Linked DNA regions of Homo sapiens: region 1 is reported to be linked to region 2. Evidence: microRNA targets listed by miRTarBase, many of them from high-throughput screens and not tested one by one. Region 2 holds a microRNA gene; the other region holds the end of a gene's coding sequence.
Evidence for each region. The annotated mature microRNA hsa-miR-7856-5p reads UUUUAAGGACACUGAGGGAUC and lies in region 2 at 4,233-4,253, shown strand. An mRNA with a match to its seed (bases 2 to 7 or 8) in the 3' UTR can be bound and repressed. Matches are read on the target gene's strand: a 7mer-m8 pairs with bases 2 to 8, a 7mer-A1 pairs with bases 2 to 7 and ends in A, and an 8mer does both.

Region 1: miRTarBase lists MYT1L as a target of hsa-miR-7856-5p. Seed matches in the 3' UTR shown: 7mer-A1 at 6,062-6,068.

The regions. Positions count from the first base shown.
Region 1 is chr2:1,785,772-1,792,876 of GRCh38, forward strand. MYT1L (myelin transcription factor 1 like) reads right to left here. Exons shown (of 25, transcript NM_001303052.2): 24 at 6,550-6,693; 25 at 3,342-6,236. The coding sequence ends at 6,096. Among named protein-coding and RNA genes, the nearest start is that of PXDN, 45 kb to the left of the region's middle.
Region 2 is chr1:86,354,795-86,361,917 of GRCh38, reverse strand. MIR7856 (microRNA 7856) reads left to right here and starts at 4,231; the gene lies at 4,231-4,286. It overlaps ODF2L (outer dense fiber of sperm tails 2 like), which reads left to right. Exons shown (of 17, transcript NM_001366781.1): 11 at 1,382-1,492; 12 at 3,027-3,131; 13 at 5,316-5,474; 14 at 7,059-7,123.

The sequences.
Region 1 (7,105 bases), not on the chromosome of region 2:
TCCCTGTGTTTGTGGGTAATACTGATCCTTCTTTATTTCCTTATCTTACCTTGCTCAACGAAGATTCGAAGAAACTGAAGGGACACAAACAATGCTCTAGAAAGAAAAAACTCATTTAATTAAAAAGCAAGAAGAGGATGAGAAGAAACTAGGATGCAAGGATGGGGTCAGAGACCAGAGGTGACTCCATCCAGAGGAAAGTCCAGCATGCCCCACATTTGGCCTCACACAGGGGAGGCCTCATTAGGACCAACAGTGAGGCTTCCCCTTAGGCCACTCTATTTGATACTGAAAATGAGGGTGCTCAGGGGCTGCCATGTGCCTGTTTTATTATTATACAAGGAGGTCTATGCCAACTACATTTATTAGGATGGGATGTTTTCTTTGTGTCGTTTCCCACTTGACCCAGTGTCTGAACAGTGACTGATAACTTGTGTGTGTCATAGTAAGTGAAATACAAAGGATGAAAGCCTGATTATCTTCATGTACTTAAATTGCTTCTCCCTTAAGACCCTGAGCTCTGCCTCATTACCCAGCTGTGTTGTGTAAACCAGTAAGTATCTGAGACAGGTCTCAACCAATTCAGAAGTTTATTTTGCTAAGGCTGAGGACTAAACTCTGATTTTTTTTATCTTGCCCAAATTCCTATTGAAGGGGTCTGGGGAGTCACGCCCTGCAAACTATAAATTCTCATCAGATGGGTTTTATTTAACCTGTATATCATGACTTACTTTTCCAACCTGACTCTGGCATAACATTACAAGACAAGGAAGAAAATCAAAATATTTTACCCCAAAACATGTATCTTTGCCATATTTTGAAATGGCCCTGCAAAGCTGTTCTTTGTAGGGGGAAATTTTGCATCTGTAAAGAATCTCTGTTAACATAACTGGATCTTTTTCTTCCAGGCCTTCTCAATCCTGAAGAGATTAACTAAGATCCGAATAGGAAGGCCGGGCGAGGTGGCTCACGTGCCAATCTCAGCACTTTGGGAGGCTGAGGTGGGAGGATCACAAGGTCAGGAGTTCACGATCAGTCTGGCCAACGTGGTGAAAGCCCGTCTCTACTAAAAATACAAAAAATTAGCCGATGTGATGGTGTGCACCTGTAATCCCAGCTACTTGGGAGGCTGAGGCAGGATAATTGCGTGAACCCAGAAGGCGGAGGCTGCAGTGAGCCGAGATTGTGCCATTGCACTCCAGCCTGGGCAATAATGTGAGACTCCGTCTCAAAAAAATAAATAAATAAAAAAAATAAAATCTGATAGGAAACATTAGTCATCTATTGTCTCTAAGGGGAGCCACTATAAGACTTCACAAGAACTTTGGTTTCCACAGTCTTTATCTTAACCTGAACATTCCCTTTCTATCAATCCCAGGTCTTTAGACAAACTCAACCAATTGTCAACCAGAAAATGTTTAAATTCACCGATAGCCTGGAAGCCCCCACTTTGAGTTGTCCCACCTTTCTGGACCAAACCAAAGTATTTCTTAAATGTATTTGATTGATGTCTCATGCCTCCCTAAAATGTATAAAATCAATCTGTGCCCTGACCACCTTGGGCACATGTTCTCAGCACCTCCTGAGGGCTGTGTCGTGGACCATGGCCACTCATATTTGGCTCAGAATAAATCTCTTCAAATATTTTACAGAGTCCAACTCTTTTTGTTGATAACAAATGCCCCTTCATGCATTTGTAATTTTTTTCTGTACTCTTCATCTACTTTATCATAATCCCCTTATTACAAGGTTTTTATAGCCATTATTTTAAGAGCTCTCTAGTACTCCATAAAATTCATGGATCATGAATTGCTTAATCATTCCTCTGTAATAGGACTTTAGGGTTGTTTTTATTGATTTTGGTACATTTGTAATTGTTTTGGTATTTCTAGTATAGACTGAGATTGAGGCAAAATATAAATTTTCTAAGATTTTTGAAAATATTGTGAAATTGCTTTCTAAAATATTTACATCAATTCTCAGGCAAACTGTTCCTATGGACAAATAGCTTTTAATAATCCTAACAGACAGGCCTGAGCCAGCACATCATTAACTCGGCTTGTTCCTAAAGACAGCCTTTGACAGAGCTTCTTCCACCCTGCGGGTCTAGAGAGACAGAGATGCAGGGTGGTAGGAGTGAGAGTCGCCTCTCTCTTCTGTCAGCTCTGAGGACTCTACCAAGGACTGGAGGGGGACTCACTGCAATCACCAGTGCTTCCAGGAAGCAGTGCTGTTGCAAATGAGCCATCCGAACACACTAGCTTATAAGAAGTGCTCAGAGGACCTTGAATCGTGAAGCAGCTGAAGGCACCACTGGGAATAAATTATGAAATTTAACTAAGATTATCAGAGTCCCTTTCTCAAATTTTATATTTTGGGTGATTGTGTCTATGAGAGGAGGGTATTTTTGGAATTTTAAACCATGACATTAACTAATATAGTTGATGTGAAAGTGGGTAATTCATTGTTAAATTATATTTGAAGGGCAATTTAAGTTTATGGGTGACTTGCTGCCGGGATCCTTGCCAACAGCATGGAAGTAAGAAGGCATCATCTTTCAACACCCAGGTAACCAACGATGGGCTGCCTGTCCTTCTGCTCCCCTGACGTGAAACTGGAGAAGGACACGTCTCCCAGTTAACCCGAATCAGTCAGGAGGTGGCAGCCAGTTTGGGACATTTTGTAAAACAATGGCCCTGGGCAGTTGAAAACTGTCTGTGTTCTGGGAGACAGGCAGGCCGAGAAACTGCTCAGTAATAAGAGGTGACAGGGACAGGAACAGGGACAGGGACGGAGCAGCTGGGAGCAGTGCACCTCCTCTGGGAGACAGGCAGGCTGAGAGTCTGCTCAGTAATAAGGAGGTGACAGGGACAGGGACAGGGACAGGGATGGACCAGCTGGGAGCAGCGCGCCTCCTCGACTGGATTCCAGAAGAAAGGCTCTACAAAGGACGTGACCGCCCTGCCTGGGCGCGCTGAGATGCTGACGCATGCACAACGGCAATGCCCCCAAGTGTGGTGGCTGCAGGGCTGCTGGTGGAGAATTCCCTGCCCAGGGGAGCCCTGTGCTGGGAGGCACCGTGTCCTCCGTCCAGGCTCGCTCTCAGATGGCCTAGCCCAGCGAGGGGCAGGAGCGACAGCAAATGGGAAAAGGACGGCCCAGTGGGGATGCCGAGACACTCACATAGTTTTCTAAAAGTCATTGACTTCTATATGCCTCGGAGTTGAGAATCAAACTGGTAAAAATGTTAAAAGCAACTAAGTTGGAGTGAAAGGGTTCGAGTGGATCCCACGGGACCCCAGACAGCATTTCCCAGACTCAAGTGAAGACGCAGACCCGGGTTAGAGATCCTTCGTGCTACAAATGTGGCAACACCTTGTTTATTTAGAGTAAGATGTGTTAACATCCAGCATGACAAAATTTGTACAAAGTTCACAATTTAAAAATGAAGTATCACAGCAACTTGTGATTCCACACATTTATAGCAAAATTAAAGTGTCAACAAACCCATGCCGTGTAGTACAAAAATAAATCAAACTTCAGTTCCACAGAGAGCACAATAAATAGTTTATACAAAATTCTGTCTTAATAAATGATTACTTAAATTAACTTAGAAATGAATATGAACAATAAGTTATAATAAACTCTGATGACTCACAATAATCCATATGAAAGGTCAGCATTCTAATATGTGACACTTTTGTGATCCCTATATAATAGTCACAGATAACTTTTGATTTGAGATTATGTACCAACGTTAGATGAGCAGCAGGTTTGTGCTTAAAATCCCTTTCCATTGTACATAGGTGATAACAATAAGAATCCAAAACTGATACTATCTAGTACTCTACTAAAAGCATTACTATATTGGCAAAGAAGCTGCAGACACAACGCGGTGGGGAAATGCATATGCTGTTATGAACAATGGGGGCCCTAAAGGCAGCTGGGGCCCTGGGCCACACGGACGGCCTCAGGTGACTGCAAGCACCTTGCTTCAGCTCTCAAAACGCATTCTGAGCATGGCAGCTGCAACCAATAGCACAACAGAAAGGGGGCGCTGTACAGAGAAGGTTCCGCAGAGCCCCGAAATAATTACATCGTCTTTTCCCAGCTAGTTATTAAAGTCCTTGTGGAAAACTGTAAGCTTTTGTACAGTGAACAGTATAAAGTGCCGCTGGGATATACATATATTTATACACATATATATATACCGAGGTTGAGTATTGTATCAGAATATTCGTCGTGAGATCCCTGTAGTCTCCCTTTGCAACATTATTGATCAGCCGTGAGGGCTCCTCTATAATCCATCCAGGTTCAGTGTCACAAGGCTACTGACACGAGGAATTGCACACCTCCGTACGGATATATAGGACAAGGTAAGTGCAAATAGTCGACTGGCACATTGTGGGGACAATGACCCTGTAAGTCCTGTTCTGCTAAAAATATTTTTTTTTTATTTTTACAAAACCCATCTTTTTTTTATTTCATAACAAAAATTTAAAGTACGTCTGTACTTCCTGCATAACATCAAGACATGGAAGGAAGAGATGCTACTAAATGGAACTCAAGTCAACATCAGAAAACACAACACGTCGTCAAAGGACTACTCAGAAGGGGGAACACAGCGCTCAAAAGTGGTCTTATGCATACATATAGTGCAGTCATTGGGAGTAAAACAATCAAATCTGGAAGGTATAAACAAGTCTAAGATGATCTAGTTTAAAGCAAAAAAGTGCTGAAGTATATTTAGTTACTTTTAAAATCTGATTGCATTCATTCTTAGAATAGTCACAAGAAATCAAACAATGAGGCTCTGCAAATGCTCTATGGTCAACTGGTCTCCACCCAAGTGTAGAACAGAAACGTCGTGGTAAGAGTCCTCTGAATAGGACCAAATGCTGATTCAGAGTCAAAGTCGGGCGGGGGGAGCAGGAGGGAAACTTTACCGAGCTGCCTTCCCACCAGATCCAGCAGAAAACTCGGTCCAGTAACTAGAAGACTCACAAATCATTTGCCTTTATCCCTCAAATGTAAAATAAGAAGGTTCATAACAATAATAGGAATAATCATAATTTTTTAAAGTGAAAAGGGGAAATAAATGTTCTTAAATTATCTTTTAGCTTAAATCGAAAACACACAAATTCTGTTGATAAACTACATTGCAATAACAGACAGTTCAGAGGGGCACGAAACTCTAGGGGAGATACGAGAAGGTTGTTCCAAAGTTTATTGAAAATGGAAAAGGAAATCTTCACGTTGTCCACCTCTGATAAGATCCTGTCTTAACTGGAGTTTCCATAGTCACAACCATGTAACGCTTAGGAGTTAATTTAAAAGTGCTGTTTAAGCTGCTTTGAATCTTCTGCCAAGTTTCCATGGCTTGATGTTGTCTTACAATAAATTACTTATTTCATTTCTTACAGTTAATCCATATGCCATTTCCTTGGAATGCAAAAAACCTCATTTATTGCCCCCACCATACACCATCCTCCTAAAACAAACAAACAAAAAAGTCACATAATATTTCCAAGCATTGTTCAAAAATAAAGCATTTTTGCAACGAATTCTTGCTATGAAACAATATGCACACAAAATGTATTTCTTAAATTCCATAAAGTCCTCCAACATGAGGCAAAATGATAACGTCTAAAAAGCGGCTGCTCAGCCACAACATGATCATTCAAAGCTGTGGGTCTGTGTGTGCGTGTGTGTGTTTGTGTGTCCATTTCAGTTCAAAATACTAAAACATTTAATCACTAAAGCATTAAAAAGAATTTACACTCTATTTATTTTGATCAGCTTACCTCTTCAGAAATAGATATACCCCCAAATGTGCATACATCAGCAGCTATAAACATTACATGGCAGAACACTATGTCAGCTTACATGGAAACGTACAAAATGTGGGTGTATTCAAAAACTATTCTGCAGGTACTATCTTTAAAGCAAGACATAAAATCATTATGAAGTCTTGTAAGCATAACACTGTTTCAAATTCAAACAGAAATAAATATAGAACACTTTCTGGTAAGTTACAGCAGCAAAAAACAAGAGGCATCCTTTTTAAGCAAGAGTTTCATCACTACAGCAGCTGTTCAGACCTGAATTCCTCTCACAGCCTGCTTTATATTTTCCAGTAGGGCTTTATTTTCTGGACTCTGATAACGATCTTGATTTGTATACATTTCCGTCAAAGTAGTCACGTAAGCATCAAAATTTTGTTCATTGATTGGATCCTACGAGATATTAAATAGTAGTTCATATACAACTTTTATTTTCTTAATAGTATATTTACAAAAGCATAAAATAGTATCATAGCATAGTGCCCCTGGTTTTATACTATTTCAAAGGCCGGCTCAGAGCACACTTAAGTTTCTGGGGTCAGCCCCGCCCATGTTTCTAGCAGTTAATGGTATGGTTTCGGGGTGGTAACCACAAACATTTGCCAAAGGCTGAAGAACCATGAAAATAACGATAAAAACGGCATCTACTTTAGGCTGTGCGCTGTGGAGGACTCCACATTCCTGCCTTGCGTGCTCAGTCACTTACCATGTGCGGCAGCTGGATGTTAGCCAGGCTGTGGATCAGAGACTGGCTCAGGTTCGCCAGCTCGTGGAGGAGAGACTCGTTCTGCTGCTCAATCACTTTGTTCTCCTCTTCGATGGTCTTCAGGTTGCTCTCCATCGTGGTAATCTGAAACGCACAAGTGTGCGTGACATGTAACACCAGGAGGACCTAGGAGCGCGTGGTCGTTGCCGGGGGCCACAGTCTACTGGGTGCGAAGAAGGGGCCTCTCGCTGAAGGAGAAAGGCTTCGGGCCGGGCGCCGTGGCTCACGCCTGGAATCCCAGCATTTTGGGAGGCCAAGACAGGCAGGTCACTTGAGGTCAGGAATTCAAGACCAGCCTGGCCAACGTGGTTAAACCCTGTCTCTACTAAAAATACAAAAATTAGCTGGGCGTGGTGGCGTGCGCCTGTAATCCCAGCTACTCGGGAGACTGAGACATGAGAATAGCTTGAACCCGAGAGGCGGAGGTTGCAGTGAGCTGAGATCACACCATTGCACTCCAGCCTGGGTGACAGACCGAGATTCCGTCTCACAAAAA
Region 2 (7,123 bases):
CTCCAGTATGTAAGCTTCATGGAGGAAGGGAATGTCGTCTGTTTTGTTCACTAATAGAACCTTCAGTGCCTGCAGCATTTTAAAAAGTAACTAGTGAACATATTGGCTCATGTATTCATCAATCATTCACATTTCTGCCTTTTTGAATTACCTACTCATTATTTTTTATATTTGTCTTTTGTCCTAATTAATATATAATAACTATATTAAGGATATTAATCTTATATTTGTTTTATTTTTCTAATGACAAATGTTATTTGACAAGACATCAAATTTGTCATTTGCTAATACTTTTTCATATTTTGTTTGCCATTTAAACTGTATTGGAAAGCTGTGAAATTTTGGAGAGAGATACACGCACACACATTTTTTTAAATGGCTTCTCTTGAGAGTGCTCTCACAGCTCTGCACATCTTGTAATCAAAGATATTGTCCATGTAGACTGTCTTTTGAAGGATGTTTGTATAGTAGATATCCTTGGAATATGGTAACCGTGTCTCCCTTAGGAGTATGGGTAGGCATGCTCACTGCCTGCTATAAGAAATTTGGGTTCCCTAAACTCAGGTTTGTTCTTCTGTAATGCATTTGACTGCATATACAGTTGCCATCTGGCCTCTGGGTTGCTCTGTGGGAACTGGGGCTCAGCAAACTGATACAAATGCTGACAGTCTTGCTACTCTTATTGCTGTGAGTAATAAGTCCCCTGTCTCTGACCTAGGAATCTTGTACCTTCTGTTAGCATCCATGAAATTGCAGTAGACTAACTAGTAAGCTTGCAAGGAAGATAAAATCTCAGACTTTTACATTTCTACATATCTTCTTTTAATTTTATGCTCTTTAGGACTTTTGCTATCCTGAAATGAAATACAGTTTTATCTGAATTGTCTGAAAATTTTTAAAGTTTTTATTTAATTCATTTGATGCTTCTTTAGTGTTGGGCTGAGGCAGGTAGTTAACCTGTTTTTTTCCTAATAGTTAAACAGTTGTCTTATTGTCATTTATTTAGTTGTCCATGTTTCCTCCATTGATTTAAAAATCTAACCTTTATCATGTATTAAGTATAATTTTTGTGTATTTTTCTTTTCCAGTAACCTCTGTATTCTATTGATTTTTCATATCTAGGCACATTTCCAAGTTTTTTTGTCAGTAAATTTAGAAAGTTTTAAAAATAATATGTCCTGTGTAAATCTTAATAAGGATGTTCATAATTATTAGTCACTAGCTTTGTGAAATTCCTAAATTTTAGATGGTATTGCATGAAATAAAAAATAATTATTTTATCAACTTTGTTAATACATGAGTTATGTTTTTATAATAATTCTGTAGCACTGGAGTATAAATGTATTCTAATGACTTATAAAATCTATATCTTTTTTGCTAGACTACACTTGCTGCTTTGAAGGATGAAGTTGTATCTGTTGAAAATGAACTCTCAGAATTGCAAGAAGTAGAAAAAAAACAGAAAACCCTTATTGAAATGTATAAAACTCAGGTGACTACTGCATTTATTTTAGTGTTTACTAAAATTGGTAGACAATTTAAAACACTATTTCTTTGTAATCTAAATAAATAGAACTGAAGAGAGGTGGGGCTATCATTGTGGGTTATAATATGGTGTGTCTCAAATATTTCTTAAGGTCCCACACATCTTTATAAATAGATGATTCTGCTGATTCCTGATTCAAACACTGCATATGGATATACTGGATATTCCTAAAAGTAGATTTAAAATGAATTACATCGGTATAATGTGACCCTTAATGTATTCTTGTTAATCTTGGTTATATTTGTTTGTCATCATGTGTATTTAATGGTATTGATTTAGATTAATGACTCCCTTCTAGGGTCATTAAAGTTCATTATGCCTCCTTTCTCAAGAAATAAAGTATAATTCAGATTATTCACATGAAAGACCAAGAAAAGAACATATGACAATATATATGAAATAGACCATGTGTTCAATGGTAATTTATAGAAAACCTTTATTTTTTTGGAAATGTAGTATTCAAGAAAAAACTTCATAAGATGGGACTTATGCAGGTCCTTGCATGATGGTTAACACACTGGTCAGAGAGAGTTTGAATTAAAGAATAATGAACTGGCTGGGTGTAGTGGCGTACACCTGTAATCCACTGGGAGGCTGAGGTGGGCGGATCATTTGAAGTCAGGAGTTCGAGACTAGCCTGGCCACCATGGTGAAACCCTGTCTCTACTAAAAATACAAAAATTAGCCAGGTGTGGTGACATGCACCTGTAGTCTCAGCTATTCAGGAGGCTGAGGCAGGAGAATTGCTTGAATCCAGGAGGTGGAGGTTGCAGTGAGCCGAGACTGCACCAATGTGCTCCCAGCCTGGGCAACAGAGCAAGACTCCATCTCAAAAAAAAAAAAAAAAAAAAAGAATGAACTAAGGATGAAAGCTTAAGGGGGCCAAAGTGTGGGCAAGTAGGAAGGGGCTGCATCTCGATGGATTAGATGGGAAAATTAAGTTGAGACATCCAGTTAGAATATTTCAGTCATCCAGGTCTGAGGTAGGAATGGAGGTTGTGGTGGACTGTGGGACTTGTTATTCATCAGGGTCTTCCAGCTGGTTATTTGGGTTTAATCCCTCAGCAGGAATACTGTGGTTGAGTGACCATATTCTGGGTGCAGGGCCTAGAATTTTTTTTTTTTTTTTTAGCAGATTTTGATTTGGTGGGAAAAATAATTTAAATGGAAGCTAGTTTGGACCAGAGACTGATTCTTTGAAGTGACATTGATCTGCAAATGAAAATCTTTGTAGTCTTCAAAGCTCAAGTGGAGAGTTTAGAAGTATTGATGAGAGAAGACAGGTAAATCAGACAAAGATTGTGGGTTAGAGTAGAGCACTGAGTGATTCCATATTTAAAGAAGTAATAACATTAGATGAACCAGTCAAGGATATTGATAGGAAAATAATGACTTGTTTAAAATGAAATTTTAAATTTTAGATTTTTATCTCATGTTATGATTCTAAAAATAATATGTTTCTCTAATACTTTATTTTCAGGTACAAAAGTTGCAAGAAGCAGCTGAAATAGTAAAAAGCAGATGTGAAAATTTGCTACATAAAAATAACCAAATAACAAAAACCAAAAATAAAAATGTAGAGAAGGTACGTTTGGAATTTCAAATAAATAATATTTTATATATTTTTTACTTTATGAATAGTACACAAATTCATTCATTTTGGTCATTTTCTCTAGTTCATACTTAGGAAAGGGCTAGTCTTAGCCTCTGTAAGAGTTTGTTTTCCAAGGAAATAATGTTTCTTCCAGGCTGGAAATGTTGTTTGTTTATGTGAATGTTTTTTCACTTTTTTGTTAATATTTGGAAAATAGCATAAATGTTTAATTTTTCTGATGCAAGAGCAGACTTTAAATAGCTCAAAAAATGGTTATCAATCATAAGTATACAAACCTAAGTATCTCTCATTTTTAATCTCACCCTTTTTTTCTGGTTATAAATGTTTTACGTCTACAAAAGCAAAGCCAATATCTGCTAAATGCATTTTTGAAGAAAAATAATATCTTTTAAAAAACGATCATTTCCTTTTATTTGTTCTATTGCAACAGAATGAAGGGAAGGCCAGTGTTGGCGAGTTATGATGTTTTTGTGAATATTTTAAAATTTTTAAATGAAACCGCATCTCTGTTTGGTTTTTTGTGTTGTTTTGGTAAAGAAGCAGTGAAAGTTGTAGGATGCTGACTCCTGGCAGCAGAGGTCATGCGATGTTAGTGGTCGCTTCCATCTGAATCTAATAAGGTTACTCTCTCTGGGTTGCTCCCTATCTTAGGATTGAGAAGTCAGAGCAAGGCAATAATGTGAAGAAGAGGTCAGCCAGAGCAAGCGTCCTCCAGTTATACAGACATAAAGATAGCTCACTGAATGCACAACTTACTGCTTTCATGGAATTACTTTTCACCTATTTTTAGCAGGCCAGCGAATAAACCATTTCATGTCTTTTGGTCTCATTTTCTCATGAAACATACCAGTGCAAATGTCTCCTTTTCTGCTAGGCAGCACTGTAAATAAAAGCATATTTTACAATCCTGTTCAAATGACGGAAAGGGTTGGAGCCTGTCTTTTTCAGATACTGTGAGGTCACAATGTTTTCTAACTAGTATTTAACAAGACAACTATTTTTTTAATGAAATTTTTCTTTTTCTTACTTCACTGTTTTAAGTCTCCTGGTTTTCTCATGGCCTCTAAGATGTTTTAAGGACACTGAGGGATCCTTTGTTCTGGATCCCTCAGTGTCCTTAAAACAGACATTTTTCAGTCTGTTTTTTTTTTTTCCTGTTTTACTTTATATACCATCAGAATATGGATCATGTGTATCCTGTTAGTAGCCACATAGCCTTCTCCTAGCTCAATGCCTAGCACGTAGTAAGCACTCAATATTTTTTTAATTAATGAAATTTTTTTTAAAGGAGCAGTCCAAGGATGGCGACAAGTCTTTTTTCTTTTACTTTCAAGACAGTTTTAGGAAGCATTCCCTGTCTGTCTTCCAAATATAATCTGGATTTTAATTTTGCAAAAAAAAAAAAATACTGCATTATCTTTCCTGATCAAGAATGCCAGATACTACACAGAAACTATTAGGTGTTCCTGTCTCAGGGAAAGAGTCTGGCTATTTTTTGTAATTAGCAGTGCAAACATTTCTTAAGGTTGCTGCTTTTCACATCTCCACGAAAGTGCTGCAGCGAGGAACTGCAGTAGCCAAAACAGATTAATGTAGATGAAATTAGAGAGATTTGTTGATAGTAACATTAATGGCCAAATTAAAGGCAAGTGAGAACTGATGATACTAGCAATTTTTAAATAATATACAGTAAACCCTATCAGTTTTGGCTAAGATGAGTGAAGCAAGCTGCTCTAATTTAAGTAAGTATCTGAGTTATAAGATTGAATGACTAAAAGTGACAATTCCTTTAGAACCTATAGCTGGGCAGTAGACAATTACGGCTTTATTAGTAATGGTTATTAGTGATAATCTATGCTTGAATATAATGTCAGGATTTTAAAAATTTGCTCTTAAAAATTAGTTAAACATCCACCCTGTCAGCTAATTTACCCTATTTATGTGCTCAACAAACTTTTTGAAAACTAAAGTCTACCCCACTTTTTAGTTATACATTCTTATTTAACAGAGTTTAATATTTATTCAGTTGTGTTCTTATTTAAAGCCATTATACCTAAAATACTTACGTTATAAGCATATCTAGTATTTAAGATAATAAAAATATTAATGCTGAATGTGTGATCTTGCACTTATTTCCCTACTGCCACAACTCAGATGAGAGGCCAGATGGAGTCTCATCTGAAGGAGTTAGAGCGTGTCTGCGATTCCTTGACGGCGGCGGAACGGAGGCTTCACGAGTGTCAGGAGAGTCTGCAGTGCTGCAAGGGGAAGTGTGCAGACCAGGAACACACCATTAGGGAGCTTCAGGGCCAGGTGTCCAGCCGTCCTTCTGAGTTTTGCTAGATGCGTTAAAAGAATGCTTTGGAATGATTTCACCAGTTGAGGGCACTCATGTCAGGGCTTGATTTTTAAATTCCCATCTACTTAGTTCGTAAAACATCATTTTCATGCAGATACTATAATACAGTTTTGCAAGCTATTCTTTTAGTATTTTATGGTGAAAAATTGGTAATTAAAATTCTTATTTTAGTTTATTCATGCAAATCTATAGACATTTGAAGACATGGTAATAGAATGAGAGAAGGAGCAAAGTTATACTTACATATATGTTCCTTGATGTAAGGATAAGGTAAATTATTGAAACTTACATTACAAAAATTGAATTTATTTTAATTAGAATTGTACGTCAAGTTTTTTGGGATATTTTTCAGTCTGTTTCTTTTTCCTGTTTTACTTTTTATACCATCAGAATATGGATCATGTGTATCCTGTTAGTAGCCACATAGCCTTCTCCTAGCTCAATGCCTAGCACATAGTAAGCACTCAATATTTTTTTAATTAATGAAATTTTTTTTAAAGGAGCAGTCCAAAGATGGTGACAAGTCTTTTTTCTTTTACTTTCAAGGCAGTTTTAGGAAGCATTCCCTGTCTATCTTCCAAATATGATCTGGATTTTAATTTTGCAAAAAAAAATACTGCATTTTCTCACTTAAAAAGTAGGAGCTAAATGATGAGAACACGTGGACACATGGAGAAGAACAACACACAGTGGGGCCTTTCAGAGGGTGGAGAGTGGGAAGAGGGAGAGGATCAGAAAAAATAACTAACAGGTACTAGGCTTAATACTTGATTGATGAAATAATCTGTACAACAAACCCCCATGACACAAGCTGACCTGTGTAACAAACCTGCATTTGTACCCCTGAACTTAAAAGTTAGATAAAAATATGCAGACAAAATTTTAGTTTAAATTCCTGAGAAGAGATTTTTCTAGTAAAATGTCAAACGACATAGATTAGCCTAAATTACTAATTGAAATTATGAGAAAAAAATTTTTTCCTTGAATCAAAGCTTCTTACATTATTTAGAGCAGATTTTGAAGCAGTGGGAAGAATATTCTGTCTTGGCATGGGTGAGTGTGTCTTTGGTTGATTTGTTCACTTTGCTTCTCAAAAAAATATGTATTTTATTTACAGTTTCGACTTCACAGATACTCAATTATTAATCAGTATTTTTAGGTGAAACAGAAAACCATAAGAGAAACCCTAGGTATCCAAAAATAGGAGATTAATACTGCTTAAAATTTTCCTATTTCAACTTAACAAAATAAATATCTTTCTTCAATAAGGTGTTGTTCAAAGTGTTTTAATAGCCATCATCCTGAATTTTTTTTAGTTGGTTATTTTCCAATACAGGCAACATAACTTCTTTAAATTTAACCAGGAATTTAAAACTTCCATTTTAACAATATAACATTTTCTTGGTGTCTTTCTGTGTAAGAGTAGTAACATTTATACCTTCTCGTTGCTTGTGGTTGTTCTAACAATAAATTATATGGATTTCTTTGGAAGTTGATTGTGAAGAAAATGACTAAGAAAACTTTTTTTTTTCTTTTAGGTTGATGGAAATCACAATCTTCTGACAAAGCTTTCTCTGGAAGAGGAAAACTGTCTTATTCAGCT